3 separate regions of the Homo sapiens genome follow, and all the other regions are linked to region 1. The links come from fine-mapping of genetic effects on gene expression. A gene starts in region 1. Each other region holds a variant in brackets. All regions are shown on one strand. Distances are from middle to middle.

Evidence for each region. PIP is the estimated chance that this variant, and not a neighbour inherited with it, causes the effect.
Region 2: its variant is fine-mapped to the expression of KCNK5 in stomach (GTEx, PIP above 0.99).
Region 3: its variant is fine-mapped to the expression of KCNK5 in subcutaneous fat (GTEx, PIP 0.98).

Annotation. Positions count from the first base shown.
Region 1 is chr6:39,224,841-39,233,016 of GRCh38, reverse strand. KCNK5 (potassium two pore domain channel subfamily K member 5) reads left to right here and starts at 3,542. Exons shown (of 5, transcript NM_003740.4): 1 at 3,542-4,091. The coding sequence starts at 3,906. RefSeq lists enhancers at 2,237-2,964, 7,050-7,344 and silencers at 3,252-3,601, 3,702-3,781, 4,795-4,864.
Region 2 is chr6:39,199,051-39,207,226 of GRCh38, reverse strand. The region is part of intron 1 of KCNK5 (potassium two pore domain channel subfamily K member 5); the gene reads left to right. Among named protein-coding and RNA genes, the nearest start is that of KCNK5, 26 kb to the left of the region's middle. RefSeq lists enhancers at 2,135-3,094, 3,095-4,054, 2,996-4,195. The variant T/G (reference allele first, on the strand shown) is at 3,989.
Region 3 is chr6:39,178,673-39,186,848 of GRCh38, reverse strand. No RefSeq gene overlaps it. Among named protein-coding and RNA genes, the nearest start is that of KCNK5, 47 kb to the left of the region's middle. The variant C/T (reference allele first, on the strand shown) is at 4,527.

The DNA of each region.
Region 1 (8,176 bases):
TTCACCATGTTGGCCAGGTTGTGCCTTAAGGTCTCTGTTTTAATATTAATGCTGGTCAGCTGTGCCTGAATTCCAAAGGGAGGAAGTTATAAGGAGGCATGTCGGCTGGGCGCTTTGGATCACACCTGTAATCCCAGTGCTATGGGAGGCCAAGGTGGGCAGATCAGTTGATGTCAGGAGTTTGAGGCCAGCCTGGCCAGCATGGTGAAACCCCATCTCTATTAAATATACAAAAAATTAGCCGGGCGTGGTGGCTCATGCCTGTAGTCCCAGCTACTTGGGAGGCCGAGACATGAGAATTGCTTGAACCCAGGAGGCAGAGGTTGCAGTGGGTTGAGATTGTGCCACTGCACTCCAGCCTGGGTGACAGAGTGCGACGCCCTCTCAAAAAAAAAAAAAGGAGCCATGTCCAACCACCCATTCCATCATGGCCTGAACTAGTGTTTTGTGTTTACTTGAGAATGCCCTTGGTCAAGAGGAAGGGTCCATTTGCTTGCTTGGGAGGGGCCTAGAATTTTATTGTTGGTTTACATTCCTCAGAGCTGATTGCCTTCCAAAAGGTTGCACTCTGAAATTATTATCAACCCTGATCAATAATCATAATACTAAGAACTACACGTATGCTATTGGAATGGATTTATTTATCAGCCCTGTAGGAAAATATATATCTCACATCACCTCATTCCCATTTACCCACTTTTCCCTTTTCCAATCTTAAGGCTCGTGTTGTCTAAATATTCGATAGTTTCAGCACAGTTTACATTTTATAAAAGCCCCCACTGGCTGCTGTGCAGAGAGCAGGTGTGTGCCCCTGATCTACAGAAGGTCAAGTTGATCCAACTATCTGGCTGGGGCAGGGGAGTTGGAGAGGGGAGTGGGGAGATGGGGAGGGGAGGGGAAGTTGGGGGAGGGGAAGCACATTCAACTGGGATGGAGACAAAGGAGAGAGGCAGGAGGAGGGAGAATGAAGAGCTGGGGAAGGAGCTTTGGAAAAATACAGGAAAGCAAAGGATGCGGCGACAGAAGGAGAGGATGAGGAGTCAGTCAGCACCACATGGAGAGCAAGAAGGAAGAAGGGGACAGGAAATGCAGAAACAGAGTGGAAGGACAAAGAAACTACAACATACAGAGGCCTCGAATAAAAATCAATTCATCTCAAAGTGTTCAGCATTTTCATGAGGCTGTGAGACCGAAATAGGAAGAGGCCCTTTATTTTCTTAGGAAGAGAACACAGACCGGAGGTGGGAGAGGAATGGTAGGGAATTTTCCAAACAAAGAGAGGGCCTGTGGCCTCTCAAACTGCCCCCACCCCATGCTCACTGAAGCGTTCACACTGCAGCCCTGAACTCTTCACAAACAGGGTGAACTCCATCCAGAGAGGGGGGATCCGGAACCCATGCTTGGTTTCCATCCCAGCTGGAGGGCTGGAGAATGAGACTGCAGAGCTAGGGTTCAGGCCACAGCCTGGGGGACAGGGTAGGCAGGAGGTCAGCAAGGCTTAGAGAAGATGGATATGTTGGGTTGGGTGAGAGGCCTGGTGCTGGGAGTGGGTTGTCTACAGAGAAGCACCCCCAGGGCCTTGTCCAGGATGATCCTTGGCCAGGGGGGTCCTGAGGGGACTGGCACTGCACACCTCAGGGATGCAGTATCAGGAAATCTGGGGCTCCCCAGCTTCCTGCTCTGGTCTTCTTCTCTGGACACGCTCATGTTGCCATAAGGAGAGACAGAAACATCAGCAAAATCAGATCAATGCTTCCAACTGTATCCCTAACCCCTCCATTCCAGCCAGATTTGGAGATAGTACAGATACCCCCCTCCCCAAGTAAAGTGTCTCTTGACACCTTGGGGTTCAGGCCACAGCCTGGGTACAGGGTGGGTAGGAGGTGAGAAATGACTCCCCTTCTTCTCGATGGAAAGAAAAGGCCTTGGCCAGGGGACAGTGCTCAGGGACTCTGGCCACTCCAGTACCTGCCCCTACAGAGGCCAGAGAAGGGCAGGGCCAGCCCCTGGTACAGAGCACTGAAAGGAGGTTCCCCCTCCAACTTCTGACTGGTGCTGGTTGAAAGACTGAACAAACTAACCCACTGAGCTTTTTTCCTCACTGCAAAGTGGGTCGAATGACAGGGCCTGCTTATGATGCATGGAAGGGATTCAGTACTTCCTGGGGTTTACAAGAGCTCAGAGAATGGCAGCAAGGCGAGTTAGAAACATCCTGGGCACCTGTTTTTAACAAATTCATTCACTCCTTCATTGCACACATGGTTATTGAGTGTCTGCTATGTATGTAACAAGCACTGTGGATACATCATTACACAAGACAGATTCTCCATCTCCCCAGCAGACATTTCCGTGTGTGTGTGTGTGTGTGTGTGTGTGTGTGTGTGTCTGTGTGTGTGTGGCGGGGAGAGGGCACAATACAGAGTAAACAATAAATAAAGTTATATAATATAGCAGAGGGAATTTAGTACTAGGAAGGACATAAAGCCAACGAGGGAGATAAGGTGGCGGGGGTGGAATTTTAAATCAGCTGGAGCATATGTATGAAAGTGGGCCGGGCGCGGTGGCTCACGCCTGTAATCCCAGCACTTTGGGAGGCTGAGGCGGGCGGATCACCTGAGGTCAGGAATTGAGACCAGCCTGGCCAACACGGTGAAACCCCGTCTCTACTAAAAATACAAAAATTAGCTGGGCGTGATGGCGTGCGCCTGTAGTCCCAGCTTCTTGAGAGGCTGAGGCAGAAGAACTGCTTGAACTCGGGAGGCGGGGGTTGCAGTGAGCCGAGATAGTGCCACTGCACTCCAGCCTGGCGACAGAGTGAGACTCCGTCTGAAAGAAAAGAGGAAAGGAGAGGAAAGGAGAAGAGAAAAGAAAAGAGAAAAGAAAAAAAGAAAAGAGGCCAAGTGTTTCCCGTAGAGATACTGTGTATTGGGGGGGCGCACAGGGGTGCCACGAATTGAGCTGCCCACTCCTTCCAGATGCAGGGTTCTCACCCGGGTAGGTGAGAACGGGGTGAGGGGGAGGAATCACGCGTGGGTGGCTGGATTAGTTCCTGATGTCCTCTGATTCCCTACAGCTTCTTCAGCCCCGTTCTAACCCCCTTCCTCAGGCTTACAAGAAAGTGTGTGGAAGAGAGACACGGAGAGACTGAGCATTAGACTTTTTTGGAAGAAACATCAGTAAATGAAAATGGAATTACAATAAAAATAACAAAAGCAATAAACTCCTGACCTCAGTCACAATCATTTTAGTTAACACGCCAGTCCTAATAACAAACACGAGTCCCTGAGACCGCAACCCCTCGGGCACCGCAGGGCGTGCAGGTCTGGGCGGGCGGCGCAGCCTCCCCTGGCGGCTGACCCTGGGAGCGCGGGGAGCGCCAAGCCTCTTCTAGCGCTCACCTCGCGCTCACTCCTGCGCTCGCCGGGCTGCTTGTGCGGGGAAGGGGCGGGGCCCGCCTGGGCTCCTCCCCGGTCGGAGCCCGGAGCAAGGGGGCAGAGCGCGCCGGGCGCTGGTTAAAGAGGCGTGCGGAGGCGGGCGCGGCGCATACTGCTAGTGGCGCGCGGAGGAGCGACGCGTGGAGAAGCGGCCCACGTGTCTGCCCAGAGTCAAGTCCTGTGTTCTTCCCGCTCCTTACGCATCCGCGGTCCAGGGCGCCCTTTCAGCCCCGCTGGTGTTCGCCCACCCCGGGCCGCGTGAGTGGGGCCCCACGCAGCTCCCCGCACTCCGTGGGCCAACTTGGCCAAGCAACTCTGTCCGGGGAGCGGTGCTTGCGGGGGGTGAGTACCGGGCACTGCGCATGCGGAGCTCCAAATTCAAACAGCTGTTTTCAGAGGCTGGAGGGCGGGCGGACTGGTAGCAGCTGGGGCTAGGAGAGGCTTTCTCTAGGAGGCGGCCGCTCGGGAGCCATGGTGGACCGGGGCCCTCTGCTCACCTCGGCCATCATCTTCTACCTGGCCATCGGGGCGGCGATCTTCGAAGTGCTGGAGGAGCCACACTGGAAGGAGGCCAAGAAAAACTACTACACACAGAAGCTGCATCTGCTCAAGGAGTTCCCGTGCCTGGGTCAGGAGGGCCTGGACAAGATCCTAGAGGTCAGTCGCCGCCTGTACCCCCATATACATCTGAAGCTGGCTTGAGCTTTAGGGGGCGCTGAAAGGAAGACCCCTTCACAGCTTTGGGTGACCCTCAGTCCCTGTGGAAGGTCCAGGGGGTGATGAGAGAGCGTGTCTCATCATGGGTCAGGCTTCGAGGATCTGTCGCTCACCCGAGGGACACAGGGGTCCCCCAGGCGCGGAGACTCTTTGGAACTTAGTTTGGCCGGAGACAAATTGGAGTTGATTCCCGGGTGAACTAGGCTCCACGGTGTTTCAGTGTGGGTGTGACGGTACCTCCCTCCTTGGGAAGAGGCTGTGGGACGGATAAAGGCGTTTATCTTTCCCTGGAGACGCTCCCGGAGTCTGGGAGCCAAGCCTGGTGCCATCCCCTCGTGTCTCCACCTCCCCGCTCCAGGGCCAGTGCCACGCCTGCCAGGCTTTTCTTAAGGAACGTGAACCCGGCAGAGTGGCGGGAGGGTCCCTCAGCCCGAGCCTGGGCAAAATCTTCCGCCCCCAGCAGAGTTCCGGAGAGGAGCTGGAGGCTCTGTGGGGCCCGAACCCACGGGATGAGGGCTGGTGCCTGGAATGCTGGGGACGCGCTCAGGCTTCCGGGAAGGCTTATCTCGCGGAGACATCCTTCAAGGGCTTGGAGTAAAACTTTGTGAAAGTAGCAGGTTGCACAAACGAATAATACCCGCGTAGTCCCTTTATGATGGGGGAGGAGAGTGTGTGCGGAATTGGGGTGGGTGGGGGACTTCCCTCCGTGCTGACATTGGGAACCGCTTATTTTCTGGTGCACAGCCCGATGGGTGGCATTGACCTCACTTTGGATAAACGGGCTGCCTATCCTGGCTGAGACCTTGGGGCCCATTTGGGGACCGAGGCCCTCTACCCCAGTTTCTCGAGGGCTCAGCTTCAACCATCAACTCTTCTTGGCCTGCTCCCCCAGTGGAATGACCAGGACCTGGGTGAAAGTTCTAGATTGCAGCAGGTAGGGAGTAGGGGTAGATTGTCCAGGGTGTTACCTTGCTCTCAGGGTGAAAGATGCCAGAAAGGAGGTCTGATGAGAAGCAACGTTTAGTCTACAGCAGCACCTCAATACTTTATGCCTATCTAGTCGTCGCTCATTTTCCAGCCTCCGTTTCCCCATGTGAGAAACGGGAATGAGCCCATCCTCATTCCTTATTTCTGCCACGGACTGTTAGGTTGGAAGCATTTGGAAAACATCAAAATCTTGTCCCCAGATTGATGGACATCACACAGATAAGCATATACGTATTTGCTGGCAGCCGTGTGTGGGGAGACTTGTCCTCCAAGGGGTCCTGTAGAAGGGGAGGTTTAGTCTAGCAGGCTTAGTGTTGGATTTTAGTGGAGAGTCTCTTGCCCTGTAGCAGTTTCCCGGGTAGAGGCAGATGGGAGGTGATGGTGGGGAGGATAAGCTTCAGTAGATGGTTGGTTGGTTTACCTCCTAACAGCAAGAGTCCTGGCATGAAGAGTCTACATGGCTTCCTTCTGATGGGCGTCTACCCTGGGGGGTGTGTTGTGGGGAGGGGGTTGCTTTATGATTTCCCTTGAGGAAACAATTCCTCTAGAGAACAAGTTTTTGTTTAGTTTGTTCCAGGGCTTTGTTTAGAGGGGGAAGAGGGCAGGCAAGGATGATAAAGCCTTGAGCTGCCCTCGAAGTGTTTCCCTCTAAGCTGTTGCTCCAACACTGCAGGGGAAGGAAGGAAAGAATTCAAGGCTAAATGTGGGAAAATAAACTTCAAAACACAAGGCAAAGGGAAAGGCTGGCGGGGCATACGGCGGGGGGGGCGGGGTCCAGGGGTTAGGCAGCCGGGTGCAGCTGGTGGTCATAGCTTTGGAGGCTAGACGGCTTCTTAAGGTATTTGAACAAACAAAATGCCTCTTATTTAGCAGTCCTGTTAAATCTGTCAACATTTACCCCCCTACCAAAAAAAAGTAATGGGCAGGTAATTTTTAGAAAAAGGACTTGGGCATCAAGCCAGTCTGCTTTGGAGGCTATTATAGATAAGTTCTTGAACAAGGACAGCCCTGTCCTCATCCCCGGCCAAAGAAACTCCCAAACCAACCCCAACTGGGCGAGTCCCTTCCCGTCATAGGAAAAACCCCAAGAAATGAAAATGGACAAGTAGAAGCATTTGCTGACATCAGTTTTAATCTGCAGAAATCTGCCTTGCTCTGCTTTCTTGTGACTTGGGGTACTGCCTCAGGCCTCAGGATATTGGTTTAAGGAAAAATGAAAACTCAAAAATCTTCTTTCCCATCTGGCTGCTTGGGCATTTTCCACCTGACGCTCTGTGTTTTAGCTGGTTCTGAATCACCTTGGAATCATGAAGGAGCCCCTAGCTAGGAATTCCTGGGGTACAACCAGGGGTGGGACAAAGATTGTTGGAAGAGATGGGGTGCAGTCTGAGTTGGGGTTTCTCTTACCCTGAAAGTTGTGTGTGCTCTTTCAAATGTGTGAGAAAGGGAGTTAAGTCAACTTTCTTTAGAAATACCCCCCGAATTGTCAGATACTTCCTTCCCTCCGCTGTGGTTGAAGTGAGGTGCAGGCTGACTTTCAAGTGCTCAGTGACCCGCCAGCCTGGGACCACGTGATCGTCCTCTTTCCTGTCTTCAGAACCATCTTGAACCCTTGCTCTCAAGCAAGATCTTTGGTGACTCATTCTCCCAACCTCTTCCTAAATTGCAGACTCACACAAGGGAAGTTAACATTTACAGCACACCTACTCTGTGTTGGGCATTGTGGGTGCTATTATCCTCATTTTATGAGAGAGGGCACAGGCTGGTTTTGCCATCTGGCTCGGCCATTTACCCATCAAGCCATGTAACTTAACTTTGCCTTCCTTTCCTCATCTGCAAAATGAGTGTTTGGTGAGGCTCCAATAGAGTAGAAACATTAGGCAAGATGTCTATAAAAAGTGAACAGGTCTCCTGACCTTAGCATTTATTGAGGAAGGCAGCTTTACCTACCTGCCTTATTTCAGGTACTCTTTACAGTATGTATTCAAGTAAGCAAGCTGAAGCCCAGAGAAGATAGAATGGCCACAGGGACACCACAGGAGGCACAGCCTATGGGGCGGGACGGGGAGGGGCAATGACCAGGCAGTCTGCCCCAGGAGCTTGCACCTCCCTCTTGGGCCTGTGAAGATTGTTGCTCTGTAACTGAGCTTAGGAAATTGGTTCAGCTGGACCCTGATCTGCTGGAAAATTCTATTTTCTATTTCCCCTAGCACAGGTAATGGCATACAGGCGTCTCCTGTGTTGTTGCCTGGCTGACCCAGCACCTCTGTTACTGAAGTAATACATCAGTCCACCCCTCTGCGCTTCTCATTTTGGAAGTCCCCAACCCCTGTCCCACCAAAAACAGTGGGGGTGTGATTGAAGGGGAGGAAGGACAGCCCTTCTCAACCTTCTGCCTCTGGTGGGCAGTGATCAGAAACAGGAAGGATTTGAGAGCCCACCGTGCACCAGACCACTTTGAATAAGCACTTTATATACATTCTTATTTTAATTTAATCTTGCAGGCCACCTCATAAATGAGGAAAATTAGGGGAAAAGCCAGTGTAACTTGTCTGGGATCACATAGAGCGGAGTCAGTTTTCACATCTAAGTTTCATGTTTCAAAGTACATGGAAATTAGCAAGCATTTATTAAGTATCCACCATGTGCCAGACACTGGGCAAGACTCTCAGGATACAAAGAATTAGGCTACACTCCGAGCTGCTGGAGAAAAGGATACATAAACCCACTGGGAACAAGACAGTGGGTGTGGGCTACAGAAGAGGTTTTCAGGAGGTCGCTTAACGAGGGTCTGGTCCAGCCTGAGGGGTCAGGGAGGGCTCTCAGGAGATGACCTCAAGCCAGAGTGGGGTCTTGGATTAGAAAGAACAGCTGGGAACCTGGGAGGTCAAAGCTGCAGTTAGCCTGGATTGCGCCACTGCACTCCAGCCTGGGCAACAGAGCAAGAGCTTGTCTCAAAAAAAGAAAAAAAAGATTAAAGAAAAAAAAAAACCTAACTGGTAAAGGAAGGGAGAAGAGACTCCTAACAGAAGATGGAG
Region 2 (8,176 bases), 26 kb after region 1:
AGCGGGAGCGGGACGGAGGCTTAATATTCCAGGTGGCATGGCCTCTTTCAGGAGGGGACATTCAGGTGAAACCTGATTGAAGTAAGAGTGAGCTGCAGGAAGGCACCTGCAAAGGCACAGGGGGGTGAACTGCTGAGCCGGAGGGACTGGCCCATGCCCAGGAGGTGGTAAATGGAAGGAGGGCATTGCTGTCAACACCTAGCCCAGCTCCCCAGCTCTGGAGGCCACATGCAGCAGACACAGACCCTCAGAATGGAGGTGTCCTCCCCAAGCCCCTTGTTCTATTCACAGAGCAATAATAGTCACATTTATTTTCCTTCCCAGTGCTCGTTTCTGGAACACGCCCCATGTGCCCAGCACTGAGCTGTTCATCATTTTTTTGTAATCGACGCGCCAACACAGTGAAGCCATGACTCTTGTTTTCCAGATACGGAGTGTTAAGCTCAGAGAGGTGATAAGACATGCCCCAGGTAACCCGCTAGTGGATGCTGGAGTCAGGATTTTGAACCCAGATGTGGCCTTTCCCCTCTGCCCTCTCCCCTGTGCTGCTCAGAGAGGGCCCCACACTTGATATTTGTGTTGGAGAGACTGGCCAGCCCAGCTTGTGTGCCAGTGCAGAGCTGGGTTTGGGAGGACAGGAAGCAGGCCAGCACGCGAGGGGCAGCTGGGCGGCCCGGGAACTGCACCTCCCTCAGGTCATTGGCCCGGGATGGGAAGGTGATGAGTCAGCAGTTCCCACAGCCACCTTTCTGGCCTGCTCCAAGGACTGTTTTTAGAAACCTTGAGTGGCTGGTGGCTTCCTGTAGCTGATCCTTGACCCCACCCCAAGGTCAAGGTAAATCTGAGGCATCTGCAGGGGAATGGGGTAGGGAGCGTAGGCACGCGCTTACCCTAACTCATATAGTCAGGTCAGATCCGTGGGTATGACCGCACAGCACAGCCCTTTATCTCTGCTATGTCACCAGTGTCTACCTGCACATTCCCTGCTGTGCTTTGGTTGGTGTTTCTCAGCCCAGTTCCGGGTGGCAAGTGGAGGGCTGGTTGTTCTGTGGACAGGGCCTCACCTGCTCTGCTGGGTCACCAGCTTGCTGTTTGGCTTCACCATCTTTCTGTTTGGCTTCACCATCTTTCTAGCCTCTCTATAGATTCCTCATCTACAGAATGGGAATAGTGTATCCATTTTGTCTGGTTTCCCTTCAGGGTCTTAGGTCTCAGATTAGACGGTGGAAGAGGAGTTATGGGTGTGAGAGGTGCTTGATGAATGTGGGGTTTTGGTGGGGAAATGCTAACTCAGGCCCTTATTAACCAAGTCGGGGAGGAATGAGCCAGGCCTGAGAGCACTGCTGGCTTCCCTGGAAAGGACAATGTGCCAGGGGCCCAATCCAAGTGCAGGGGCTTGGGCTAGAGCTCTCTAACCCCACCTTAGAAGTAAGGCCTCTTCCTAGTGACCCACAGCCTTATGGAGGAATGGAGGAGGCTGCTCTGCCCAGCTGGACAGGCTCAAGGGATCCCAGCTAAAACTGTTTCCTGTCCCTACTGACACTGTTGTCCCACTAATTGGGAGACACCCCTTGGCATCGCTCAGGGCAGAGAGGTGTCAGACACCCCTGGGATCTGAACTCTGGGGGCAGAGAAGGGGACAAAGTCACAAATCCAGGCCTCAGTGTCCCAGATAGGGCAGAGACACCAGCACAGGACCATGGACCTGGGCCATAGCCACCCTGGGCAGGGCAGTGGTTGTGAATTGGGGTAGAGAAGCTATAGGTAAATGAAGGATGTCCCTCTTGTCATTTAAGCCTCCCTGGACACATCCCACCTTCCCTGAGAAGATGAGGCAGGGGTAGATTTTGAGAGCATGGCCTCAGAGGGTCATCTGGTATGTGTGTTTGAGAGGGAGGGGGCTCTTTCCTGCTCCCCAGGCCCACTTCTCAGGCACACAGCAGTGCTGTGGGACCAGGAAGGGGCCCTCGAGGTCCCCTGTGTCTGCCCGCACAGGGATTTCCAGTGTCAGTCACTGATCAGCTCAGCCCTCCAGGTGCCTGAGAGCTCACGCTGACATTCCATCCTGAGCTTGGGCCCCACCAGCCCTTCACTGCTTGCCTTAGCCAAACCTGCAACCTCAGGTCAGCTCTGCCCTGGGCTTGTTCTCACAGGAGGGATGCCCAGCTGCCCCCCTGCCCTGGGGGATTACCGTCCCAGCCTGAGAACAATGCGGGCAGGGTCACCTGCCTTGTTTTCTTTGTTCCTCCCAGTGAGGACAGGGCTCCCAGGCCTGTGAAAGTCAGAAGCCCAGGGTTTCTGCTGAAAACCTGCTCCCATCTGGCAGGGGCTTGCCCTCCTGAGCGTGAGACCTAGCAGTGCCTCTGGGCTCTGCAGAGACTGCTGAGAGATGGCCCAGGAGGGCAGGCTGGGGGAAGCCCAAAGGTGGACAAGAGGACAGTTCTGCCTGTGTGCATGCACAGCCTGCCCCGTGCTAATGTCAGGGGTGGGGCTGCGCTCAAGTCCCTAATGAGGGAGAATGGATTGGATCTAGGGCAGTGCGTTTGAAACTTGGCTGAACATAAGATTAGAATCACCTGGGGGAGCTTTGCAGCATCCTGGTTCGCAGTTCAAGCCCCAGACTATTTCTCTTGGCATCTCTAGGGGCAGGACCCGGGCAGGAGTATTTTTCCAAGCTCTCTCAGATGATCTCAGTTTGTAGTCCAGGTTAAGAAGTAGTATGGTGACTGATGAGCTAAGTCCTGAGGATAGAAATGCATTTTCTTGAATGTGCTATGGAGAGGAGGTAGGGGAGGTATCACCTGCCCAGGCAGGGGGACTCCAGTAGTCATAGTCCAACCTCCTCATTGTACAGAGAAGCAGGCAGGCAAAGCAATCAAAGATTCTTCGAGGATCTCAAGACAGTACTGGCAGAGCTGAGCTGAGCCTGGGTTTTTAGGCCCTGCGCCGACGTCCTAGCACACCAAAGCCTCCAGCCATTGATTTGGCCTGCCTGCCTTCTTCTCAAATGTGATCCATACTCCAGATAGATATCAGAGCAAATCTGAGAAAAGAGATAAGCAACCACAAGTTAACAAAGTCCGCTTTGCAACAGCCCAGCTCTGGTCTTCGAGGAGACGGGTGTGGCCCTGCTGCCTTTCGTCCAGTATCTGCTCCTTCCCTGGGAGAGACAAAGCTCAGGCGAGCTGGGTTGGCTGCTGGTGCAGGTATCAGGGTGGCACCACTGGGCCCTTGCCAATACCTTGCTCGTAAACTACAGCTGCCCTCCGAGCCACACCCTGGTCACCTGACCCGGGGGGAGAGGCAGTGAGGAAAATACCAAGAATTCCTTCTCTCTGCCCTGCATACTCCTTTTTAGACAGGAAGATGGAGAAGGCCTGAGCCTCCCTCCCCCTGTCAGCTTCCACTAGGGCAGCCCCTGCATATTAGAATCACTTCTGGAGCTTTTTAAAAGTTGTGCCAGGTCAACAGAATATCTGCAGTTGGGGACCAGGCATAGCATTTATTTAACCTCCAAGGGGATCTACTGGGCAGCCTGTACCGAGAGCCACTGCCCATTGTCTTGCTTCATGTTCACGCTGGGTGGGGGCTGGGAGGGAGTTGGACTAGAGTTCAGAGAAGCTGCCATCTAACACCTCCTGGCCTCAGCCTCACCTGGGGAGGTACTGGCGGCTGCCAGGGGTGATGGGGGGGAAGTGGTGAAGACAGGATGGGACCAGTGGTGGCATTTCTTTCCCTCAGCAGCCCTGCCCAACTTGCTTGGTTGGACGAGAAACTGGCCAGGGTGGCTGTGAGCCTCTGAGGGGCAGAGGCCAGGAGAGATGGGGCCTCTGAGGGATGGGGTGAGGCATCTTGGGCTTGCCCGTTTCCCTCTGCCCCTGACTCCCAGCCATCAGGTGGCCAGGGAACATCTCTGGAACCACAGTCCCTTCCTCCATGTGGCCTGAGGGAGCTGATGGATCAGGCTGAAAATCGACAGTTTTCTCTG[T/G]TAAAATGGGGAAATGGGAAGAGTTGGCAGTTGTGAAGAAGGTTAGGGACAGTGTTCTCACCCTTTCCTGTCTTCCAGGCACAGGGCTTGAAATCCCTAGTCCTTCTCTACTGCTTGTCCAGGACATGCCAGCCCATCTGCTTCAGCTTTGGGGGTGAGCAGCTTTGCTCCTGGGTCTCAGATCTCTGCAGGGTCTTGTTCCTGACGGACACACGTGTGAATCACAATATTGATTGCAGATACATTTATCCAGTGCTTACTGAGTCCTAGGTTCTTTTCATGTGTGCAGAGTAGGTGTTATTTTACAGACAGAGAAAGTAAGGCTGAGAGGCTGAGTTATTTACCCAGAGGCTTGCTGCCAGCCATCGAGAGACCCCTCTGATTCAAATCCAGGTTGGTTCCACCTTTTCCATGAGCACAGGTCTGCATTTGGAAGATGGCCCTGTGGCTTCCTAGATAGAGCTAAACCTGAGCTGCAGAGGCCCTGCTGCCAATGGGATTGATTGAGTGCCCTCAGAGAGGAGGGGCTTTGGGATTCAGTAAGGAAAGTGGTCAGCTGGAAGTAGATGTGCAATTTCTATTGACTCTTCTGTTCCTTTGCCTGCTCTCGGTACATTTACTGCCCTCGTGGAGTTTCCCAAGGGGACAGGCCTCCCTGCAGGAAGGACAGTCCCAGTCACCTGAGGGACCTCTCCCACTCCACTGCTGATTACTCTCCCATCTTGAACCCTCTCCTCTGGGCTCTTGTCTGCCTCCCTCACCTTGCCCCTTCCCCAGCTCCTGCCCCCTGCCCTCTCCTCTCAACCTGGTGATCCCCACCTCTGCAACCCAAGACCAGTTGGAGGCTGGTGGTTTCAGCAGCCCCTGTGAGCCCCGCCGCCGCTGGGGTCTGTGCCTCTCCTTCCTGCCCTCTTGCTCTTCAGGCTTCCACCTTGTTTAACTGATGAATTTAGTGAAAAGCCAACTGCAGAACGATGCTGGAAGTGGTTGGGGATGGAGGGGCACTAGAGGACAAGTTAGTTGAGGCCAGGGAATATACCCTTATTTATTTAAATGTATTTATTCACTCATTCAGTAAATATTTGTTGAATAGCTACTGTGTGCTAGGCAGTGTTCTAAGTTTGGGGAATACATCAGTGAAAAACAAAACAAAAGGCCCTGTCCCCATGAAGCTGGCACTCTAGGGGAGTCTCTGCATGTCTGTGGATATTGCCTGGTAGGCCGTTTCACTTGCACCTAGAAGCTCACCTGCATGCCTTTCACCCCCGTCTCTAGATAGTGCAGAGGTTAGAAGCCACCTGGGCCCTCATCCCAGCTCCACAACTAACTAGCTCTGTGACCTTGGGCAAATGCTTCTGTAAGATGGGGGTAGTAATACTTTAAACTAAAATACAGTAAACTTTAGAGGGTACTGGCATTTTGTGAGATAAGTAAAGTGCTTGGATTTAGGTGCTTGTCTTCATAAGTGCTTAAATATCAATGTATTATTTATGAAATAAGAATGAATAGCCATGCCCACACCCCTTACAAGGTTGCTGGGAAGGGAGGTGAGAGGAATGATAAGTTTCTTTCTGTACTACCAAGCACACGCACATAAGAGGGTCAGCTCTATTTTCCCTTCCAGGGCCCAATTTTACCATCCCTCCGCAGGGCCAAGTGAGCTTTGACACAGTGAATTAAGAATTGATTGCTGGGAGTGGTGGCTCATGCCTGTAATCCCAGCACTTTGGGAGCCCGAGGCAGGTGGATCACCGGAGGTCAGGAGTTTGAGACCAGCCTGACCGACATGGAGAAACCCCGTCTCTACTAAAAATACAAAATTAGCTGGGCATGGTGGCACCTGCCTGTAATCCCAGCTACTCGGGAGGCTAAGGCAGGAGAATTGCTTAAACCCGGGAGGCTGAGGTTGCAGTGAGCTGAGATCACGCCACTGTACTCTAGCCTGGGCAACAGAGTGAGACTCTCATCGCAAAAAAAAAAAAAAAGAAGAAAAAAGAATTGATGCAGCTGGGAATGGTAAAGGAGGGTTGGCCCATGAACCCATTAACCCATTAACCCATTAACCCATGAACCACTGACAATCCAGGAGTCTAGCAGAGGCTGGAATGGAGGAAGACTGTTAAGGCTGTATCCTGCAGAGCAAGAAAGAGTCCTGTGATCCTAAAGTGATGGCGGCTGTGGAGCTGGAGGCAGGGCCGGGAGTAGCTCTATGGGTGCCAGATAGCTGTGATCCCAACAGGCTAACATCTTGACTTTGGTTTCCCTTACCCCACCCCGTAAAGGGGAAGCCCCCACCTTGCCCTGCCTGCCCATGTCTGAAGGTGGGTGGCATGTCCCAAAGCCCCAATCTAGATCCCTCTCTCCAGGAAGGGGATGCCCCACCACTGCCAAGGGAAGCCTCAGATCCTTGGGGGATGAGGGGATGTCTGGGAGTCAAGATTACTCAGTCAGCACAGTGAGCACCTGGGAAGGTGGGGTTGGGGCAGCTGGACATCTGAAGCTCTGGGCAAGGGCACACATGGCTGTTTCCTCACTGGAGCAACAGCATGAGAGCTGGTCAGAGTGGCTGGACTGGTTTTAGGGCACTGTTTTTTCAGCTGGTGGGAAGTGGGTGGGAGTATGCACAGGCCTCTTTCCTGTGGCCTTTATGGGGACAGGAGATAGGAGAACAGCAATTAGGACCCAGATGGGCCTGGGTTCTAGTCTTGGCTTCACTGTTTTTAGCACTTTCTTAACCTCTGTAAGCCTCAAATCCTCAGTTGCAAAATGGAAAAAAATTATAGTATCTTCCCAGCAAGAATCTGTCCTCTCTAAATGAGCTAAAGGCACATAAAATGCTTTACCCAACTCTTGGCACATAGGAAGCCCTCCGTAAATCACAGCTGCTTTATGGTGACGGTGATGGAGACAGGGAACTCTACTCCGTTCCCAAACAAGAGCTGGGCCTGAGCTTTGTGCAGGCTCCCCTTTTCCCATTACTCTCCAGGCTTGTATGGAAAATGAAAATATTGTCTCGTGTGAATTTGGGAGCCAAGTTAAAGAATCCAGCCAGTGAACAGGGGCCGCCTCCTCCCGCGAAAGCTGTTTCCCTAACCCCGAGGACGGGACGCCTTGTCTGACAGGGTGTTTACCTGGCTCTCCCATGTCCCTTCCCCTAACCCAGTGATGGCCTTAGTCCTGGGTCAGCTTTTCTGTTCTGGGAGACCAATTAAAGCCCCCTCCTCTTCCTGCATAATCCCAGCCATGATCAGTGAGGTATCCACAGATACACACAGTGGGAATAGGGAGCTAGCACCCCAAATTCACATCCAGACCTCAGCTCCCTGAGCCTGGCTTTCCTCCTCTGCCAAGTGATGCCTGGCAGAATGACAGGAAGAGCCAGTTAGGTAACGTGTGTAAAAGCCCCGGCGAGGGGTGTCTGACATACAGCAGCACTAGCACAGCTTCTCTCCACCAGCACTTGGGTGGAGCTGAGCTGATTCCCAGGCCAGCTGCTTGGGAACCACAGCAGAGGAGGCAACCGCAAGGGGCAGTGGGGCAGCCCAGGGGCAGGCAGACCCAGGCAGATGGAGGCAGGGAGGCTTGAACTTGCAGACTTGAAACCAGACAGTCTACAACCTAGCCCAGTTCTGCCAGGTAACCAACCTCTCTCCGCCCAGTGGGTGTAATTGCCACCACTGGGTCTTTGCAAGGAATGAGTAGTGCTTGCAGCCCCGGGGAGTTAGGGGCTCTCTCCAGTGCCTCCTTTGCCCGCCCCTTGTTGGGCAACCACAGAGGGATACTAGAAGTCATGGGGAAAGCACATAATGCTGTGGCTGCCTGATAAGCCAGGGCCTGAGGCTGCCAGCTGGTCCCCAAAGGGCACACCATCAGTGGGGTGAAGGGTAGAAAGCCCAGCTCTTCCACCTCTCCCCACTCCCAAACTTAATGCCTTCTTCAGTTACCCTGTTTTGCCAGTTCTTTTGTTTGATGTCTCCTTAGCACTTACTAAATGATTCCCAAATCACAGGTTACCTTTGGCACTAGCATTTCCCAGGGGGAGCATTTTTGGCCTTGTGGGTGTGGTTGTCCTGTGAATTGCAGGGCATTTAGCATCTCTAGCCCCTTGCCTTCTCAATGCCAGAGCATCTCCCATCACCCATTAGAATAAACATAAGAGGAGGGCAGGGATTCCGTCCGTTCACTGCA
Region 3 (8,176 bases), 46 kb after region 1:
AAATTGAGGCAAATATAGGATTTTTTCCAAGCTGAAACAACTATTAACTGGCAGCAAAGCAGCTTCCCTGACTTGCATTCTCATTCCTCATTCTACCCTCTAAGTTTCTGATCTGACAGGGGAGACATCTTCAGAGAACCCAGAGTCTGATGGAGGTGAGAGACAGCGTCTCCCTTCAAGGAGTCTAATCTGACAAGGAGGAGAGCACAGAAAGACCCTCAGGGTCCCAGCTGGGCTTCTTATCTCCTGCATGATCCTGGAGGAGACATTTAGCTCCCTGCCAGAGGTGATGAAGAGAAACCAGGATGTTTGGGTTTCACCTCCTGACTGGAAAGAGCCAGGCAAGGTAATCAGCAGCCACCATTGCATCTGAAGCTCTCATAAGTCTGGGGTAGAGTGGTGGGGAGGGACAGGCAAGCTGGGCTGCACAGCTCTGGGTGGGGCCTCCAGAAATGAGGCCCCTGAGGTTTGGTCTCAGCTCTGCCATTCATCTCTCCATTCTTGAAATAACAGGTTCCCGGTTTCCAAATTCATGCACAACTGGTCCAGGAACCAATGACAACTCGTGAATTGTCAGGATGTATTTCACAGTGAAAACCCCTCCCTAAGATCTCTGTCCCGTCTATCCATCATGGCCCCATCACCAGGGTCCAGGCCACCTGGCCCCTCACCTGGATCTCCCACAACAGCGTAGGGCCTGGCACCTGGTAGGGGGTCCACAGATATTTGTTGAATGAATGAATGAGCCCCATCTGCTGGTCTCCCTGCCTCTAATACTGACTCCCTTTCTACCTGGCCATTACTGTAGCCAGCAACCTAAACTCAAACCTGACCCATTTCTTTTCTGTTTTAAACTCCTCAGGGGCTCCCCATTGCTCTTCCACCCCCTCCCCCCCGCCCCACCTCTCTCTTCAGCCTCCTCTCCTTTCCCACCTCTCTGGGCTCCAGCCACTTTGCCGTTGCTGTTTCCTCTGCCCTGATGCCCTTCCTCTCTCTCTCCTGGGTAAGTCCTGAGACCTAGTGGGATTAGATATGGATATCACCTTCTCTGGGAAGACTTCCACAATTACCTGTAGCCCTCCCGGATTCTGGGCCAGGTGCTCCTCCTCTGTGTTCCAGAGCCCCTTCCTCAGTAAGCTGCCTCTCTCCCACCGAGCTGTTCTGATGTTGTTCCAGCTCCCTGCCTCCTGGTCTTATGCCTCCTCCCCTGACTGGGAGCCGCTAAAGGGCACAGGGAGTAGCTTGTCCACCTTCAGATTCCTGGGAGCCCAGTGTGGAGAGGGGCCCAGCTTTTCCATGTTTACTAAATGGAGGGTAAATGAACTAGAGGCCTGGCCCCTCCTACTGGTAATTCAGTCCCTCTCTTCCTGGGGCAGAGGCCAAATCAGGGGGCAAGGCTTGTTCCAGAAGGGCGAGTCCCCACAAGGCCAGGTGGATGATCTTGAGGGCCCTTGTGGCAGGCTGAGTTGGCCTGGTGAGTCACCTTATCTTGTGCCAAGTCACTTGAATCTGCAGGGCAGTACTGGAATAAAGCACACCTTATTTCTCCCCACCCCAGGGAGCACTGTCATTGGCACCCCCTTTTCCACTTGCCCCATCTCCCCATCTTCACCTCTTACTGTTCCCAGGTGATTCCGGGAGCTGGGCCTCCCAACCCAGCAGCTCCCCAGTCCCCACGGTTCCCTCAGGATTACCTCTGCTCCCAGCAACCCTGCACACCGGGCCCAGCCTCTCAGTTCATAAAGCCCTTTCACACCCATTCCTGGGTGGGATTACGCAACAGCAGGGAGCCAGGTGCAATATTTTACAGGCCTCAATTTAAGGGCCTTTTCCAAATGAGGTAATAAATGTTTTGGTTTGATTTTCCAGGAAAACAAGGCCTAAGGCTAGAACTGGGAGATGGTCAGAAGAAGTAGCAGAAAGGGATGTAGAGGTAAACATGGGGAAAGAGGAAAAGGTCATACATGTTCATTTTAGAGCTGTTTCAACTGTGGGCAACTGGGGCTTAATCCCACTAGACCTCCCCTGAAAAACCTGTAGAATACACCTCAGATTTGTCCATCTGAAGGACAGGGACCATTTATCCACCAATTCCACCCTTGTTGGTTAAGGATGGCCCCAGGGAAATTCATCCCCACCCTCCTTTCATACATGTGGATGCAACAGGCGGTATTATCAAAAGATGACTGCGACAATATCTCCCCACTCACATTCTCATCTGCAAAATGAACTGGCCACTCCCCAACAGGAAGCAGAGTCTATTCCCTTTGAATGTGGGCTGCCCCCAGGACTGTTTTAGTCAATGGAATATGGCAGTGATTCCTGTGATTTCTGAACCCGTGTGTGTGTGTGTGGGTGTGTGTGTGTGTTTTGTTTTTTTGTTTGTTTTTTGCCCAGGCTGGAGTGCCCAGGCTGTTGTGCAATGGCACGATCTCGGCTCACTGCAAGCTCCGCCTCCCGGGTTCACACCATTCTGCCTCAGCCTCCCGAGTAGCTGGGACTACAGGCACCCACCACCATGCCCAGCTAATTTTTGTATTTTTAGTAGAGACGGGGTTTCACCATGTTAGCCAGGATGCTCTTGATCTCCTGACCTCATGACCTCATGATCCACCCACCTTGGCCTCCCAAAGTATTGGGATTACAGGTGTGAGCCACTGCACCTGGCCGAACCCACATGTTAAGGCCTGGCAGCTTCCACTTTGGTGCTCTGGCGGAAGCCAGCTGCAATGTAAGAAATCCAAGTACCTTGAGACCCACACTGTGAAGAAGCCCAAACTCGCCCATGGAGATGGCACATGGAGAGAGAATTGGCCCCACTGAGATTCCATCTTGAACACTGCAGGCCCAGCTGATGCCATACAGAGTGGAGCCCAGCCAGCCCGCAGATTGCAGAATCATGAGCAAAATAAATGATTGTTTTCATAATCCTGAAAGCCTGGGAGTGGTTTGTTACACAGCAATAGATAATTGGAACACTGGCTGGGCTTGCCCTGAGCTATGTGACCTTTGCCGGGCTTTGGAGAAAGCTTGGAGGTAGAAAGGTAGAGAGACACCTGGGCACCCTGAGGTGGCACTACAGCAGCGGTGAAATGCCAAGTGGGCTGAGGGATTGGGCCACCTGGCACAAATAGTATCTCCTACCTGGAGGCTAAAACTCTTTGCCCTCGAACACAATAATTGGCAGAGCTGAGACCAACTGTCACTGGGTCTTCTAACTCTTCACCCGGGGCTCTTTTCCTTATGCAACATCAAAGTTCGTACCTTCCAGATATCAAAGCCCATTCTACTTTAGGGTCTCTAGTTCTCCCTGCTATGTTTAAAGAGCCTGGGTTCTGCTACTATCCAGCTGCACGACCTTAATGGCCATATCCATCATTGACAGGATGCTTATAGGCACTGCCCAGGATACTTTATGCATATGATCTCACGTAATCCCACAACAGTGTTATTACCCAGTTTGGAAGCTGAGGCTCACAGTGATTATACAACAGCTAGAGGTGGAGTCTGGGTTCTAACTTAAGGATCCAGGGCCTGTGCTATTAACTACAGTGTAAGCCGGCCAGGGCAAAACTCTCCTGCTCAAGGACAAGAGTGTACAGAGAGGGTGTCCTGGCTGCAGCTCCAGCCACTCCCCAGAGTCTGCCCTCCTCATCTCCAAGACCAGTGAGGTGGACCAACCAACCCTGCAGGGACTACCCAAGAATCATCAGGGGATTCCTGGGCTCCACCTTGGGAAGATTCTGATTCAGAAGCTCTGGGGTAAAGCCCAGAAATACCCAGGTTCTGGGAACACCTGGCTGGAGATCTCAAACAAAGGTCAGGTCTCTCCAAGCTTCCCACATCCCTGCCAATCCATCCCCACCTGTTTTCATTCTGCATTGAAATCTGTGTTGACATCAATAATGTAAAATTTCCTCCTCCTTCTTTGATTCCTTCACCTGCAGCTCTGGCCAGCTGAGCTGCTGCGTTTTAGGTGTTGACATCACACATTATTTAACTCAGATGACCTGTATTTGTTGAGTCTCTCGAAGGTTGCCTAGAACACCTGATGCTGGTGACTGAGGGCAAATGAACAGCTACCTGGCAGTCAGGCCTGGAGCAGCCAGACACCTGCCTCTTTCTATCAGCTCAGATTCCCACCCTCAACAGTTCACTCCAGGGGAAATTTTCTGACCCAGTGGCCTGGAGCCCTTTTATACCAGCTCACGGGAGCTGGTGGTTAACTTTTTGGAAATTTTGCAAGCTGGTTGTTAAACCACAGCCACTACTAAAAAAAATTAAAAAATTAAATTATATAAATATGCAATTAGATGGTATTAAGAACAAAGGTCATAAGTATGTAAAATTCATCACTTCCTAGCTATTTTGCATCTTACTATTATTCATGCTTTTGAGGTGATTTTTCATCTTCTACAGGTATATGCAAATACCTGTAGATATGCTATTGTGTTTCTCTTTCCAACTTGACGTTTTGTGACACCATATTGGTAGCTAAAAATTGCCCATAGGACAAGCATTTACAC[C/T]GTGGAAATGGGCAAACACTACCAATTAGGGATCTCTGCTCTCCAGAGAACCAGATGTTAAACATTCATCAGCACATCACTGCACTGACCTCTGGAATGATTTGCAGGCTGGGAAGGGCAGGGGAGAGTGAGGTTTTGTCCATCCTGGAAAGGAAGAAGCAGTCTCTGGATTTCAGGGAGAATGTAATTCGTGAAGTTGTCACTTGCACTCCCTCGAGCGCCTCAGACCATTGCTGATTAGGGATGAAGATTCAAGGCCCATAGGAGCTAACTGCAGGGGTGATGAGTGAGCAGTCTATGTGTACTTGCCCCCTAAATGTACATAGAAGCTCTTGGGTCATGGTCCAAACTGGAGGCTTAAAGGGACTTCTGCCTTCAGCTGGAGTTCTGAGACTGCCGAGGGCCTAGTCCAGGAGCTGTCTTGCCCTCTGCTGAACTGCACTGCAGCTTCAGACAAGTCTCTATGTCCTGGGTCTCTTTATAGTTAAAGGGGAGACCCTCTCAGCAAAGACTAGGTCCTGGCAACTGGATGAAAGCTATTGAGTGTGTCAGATTCAGACTAAGGCTTTGCAAAGATCATATCACTGAGCAGAAACACACAGCCTGACACATAGGATACTGTGACTGAGGCAAGGAGGGAACACAGAAGGGAATCTAAGGTCTTCTAGAAATTCCCTGCCCTCGAGTGAAGAGGAAGGGATGACTCCACACAGGATGTCCATGGCCCCAGTCAGAAGTGGCTACTACAGAGGTCCAGGGCCCCTCGGTCTCACCCCACAAGCCAGTCGTAGTACAGCCCCGTCCCATCAGGGCAGGCATCATCCTGCAGACCATCAGGCCTGCTCCGGGCATTTGAGCCACATGTGGTGCTCTCCCTCTAACAATTATGGCTCTTAATTGAGCACTTACTTTTTGACAGGCTCTGTGCCTGGCACTGTACAAGGGGACCCCGGGAAAAGGTTCCTCTTTCTTTTGTTCTCTTCCACTCTCATACTCATGTGTGTGTGTGTGTGTGTGTGTGTGTGTGTGTGTGTGTGTGTCTGTGTCTGTGTTTGTGGTAGGAGGTGGAGGAAGGCATTGTGAAGGGTTGGAATCAGGGATCCTTAATGACCCACACAGAACTGCAGTGCGTTACTAGTTCAGGTTCTCCAAGAAGCAGATGCCATGACTGGATTAAACCAGAGAGGACTGCATTGAGGGAAACACCTATGAGAGGCTGGGAACGCTGTCTGACCACCATGCAAGTTCTATCCCAGTGCCTATGAAGGTTGAAGCTTAGGTGGAAGCAGTCTAGACTGCCACGCAGGCTAAGGAAAGTTAGGCAAGGCTGCTGGGGAGTCCTAGAGCCAAAGGCGTCTCAGACATGTCTCCTGGGAATTGACCTGCCTTGCTATTCCTGCTGCACTCCGTTCCTGGCAGGGAGCAGCCCACAGTCTGGGCACAAACTTGGCGATGGATTGGAGGCCACAGGGGAGACACCTTTCAGTGCCAGGACTTTCAAGGGGATGCTGGGCCCTCTCCTAGGTTTCCTTGAGATTTCCTGCTGTATCCTGATCACACACTCTCTTCTTTCCTTGAGCTCGTGAAAGTGGTCACTGTGGAAAGTGTCCTCACTGTATCATCCCCAACTCTCAGCCCCAGAGACCCTGACCTACTGTCCAGGAGAGGCACCCCAAGATATGCATAAGAAGTCTTTTCTTCAAGTGTCTCCTCTACTGGGTGGCCTGATTCTACACTAACCGTCTAGAAAGATTCACTTGGTAGTCCTCGCCCTCCCAGATTTTCTTGTCTGCTCTTCTCTGCCTGGCAGGTAACTTCACATTTGCGGCTGCTAACTTGTTCTCTAGATGTTTTATGGGTGTCTGTCCCATCTTCCCGGTGAGAGGGGAGGGGAGGGGTTGTTCTTGGAACTGCCTCAAATTCCAGGCTTGGCCCTTTCCTAGCTGCATGACTCAGGCAAGTCACTTCACCTACCCGAGCCTCTATTTCTTCATTGGAAAAATGGGGATTCTAACGTACCTCAAGGGTGAGAGCGATGGCACCTCATTTCAAATACCTTCCCAGGCCCTCTCATTGGTCTATCTTGTTTCAGGTTTCCTCTCCTAGTTAGCTTTGCCAAGGTGGGTCACATAGTTCAAAGACAGCCACCTAGGCTGGCCCGTCTTCAGCAGGGATTGTGGGTAGGGAAAGCATCTCAAATATATCTACCACACTCACCATCTTCTCTCCCTCCCACTCCACATTCATTCATGGATGCCTTCAACAAATATTTACCAAGTATCTTCAGAAACAGCACTGAGAGTTTGAAGGCAGGGGAACTAGGCCTAGACTTGTGACTTTGGGGACGGCATTGCCCCTCTATGGGCCTCAGTATCCTCTGTAACATGATGGAGGCCACATTTCAACTAGATCAAAGGTTCTCAGCCCTGGGAGAACATCAGAATCATCTAGAGAGTTTTAAAATAAAATGCTGAAACCCAACCACACCCCCACCCCTACTCCTGCAAAGATTGTGGTTTCATTGGCTGGAATGGGGTCTAAATGACACACTTAAAAAAAAACCCAGTTGATTCAAATATGCAACCAGGGTTGAGGACCATTGGATTAAAGGTGAATCATTAGATTTTTGCTAATAATTCAATGGCTAAAGTGGTGCTTAGCCTGCAAGAGGTGCTCAATAGATGCTCCTTGAAGGAATGAATTCCCTTCAGCTATAACATTCTGTTCTTAGTCGAGGGGGTACTGGGGAGCTCCAGTTGGACCAAAATGAAGAGTTTTCTCAAAACCAAAAAGACACTGAAGGAAGGAGGAACACTACCAGTTAAGGAGGAATCTCAGAGTGGTTCTTCCTTAGAAATGGACCAAGCTGGATTCTCTAACTCTTTTGATACTTACCGCCAGTGTGGGAGCCTGGAGGCTGGAGGACTGCCCTACAGCAGGGATGCGGCTTGAGGGTCTGAAATCTGGCATGAGATCCCCCTACTCAATAGCCCTGTGACCTCAGCAAGTCAATGAGCAGCCAGATTTTCACCTACAAACCAGGAATACATATTTCTCCTTCACTAGATTTTGGGAAGATTGACAGAGACAAAGGATTGGAAAGCACTACAGGAATGTAAGAGGTTATTCCTATTAAGCCGAATCCCTGGTAAATCCCAGATATGTGGCTGCCTGAAGTTTCCCTAAGGGAGCAGGAGAGAGAGGGAACTAAATTGTCCAGATCTGACTTGGAAAGTGACAGCTGTCCAGTCATAGTTCTCCCTGAACTTCAAGGAGTCACCCATTCCCAGGAGGGAAGGAATGACGATAATGTACATACTGCCCCACTTAATCACCTCCCAAAGTCCATACCTCTTAATAGTGTTGCGCTGAGGATTAAGTTTCAACATGAACTTTGGAGTGGAGACCATCAATCAAACCTTAGCACGTGGCAAGAGAGGAAGAGACAGGAGCCAGGCCAGCCTTGGTTCTCCTGAGATTTGTATCTTAACATTGACCTTCACCTTTTATAACTAGTAGGTTCCTTGGCACTCAAAGAGCCTTGACCCATCTAGGCACAGGCAACATGAAAAAGCCTGTAGGTGCAAAAGACCCTGCTGTGCTCCTCACTTTGCCCCCAATATCCAACAACATCCCACTGAGGTATTGAA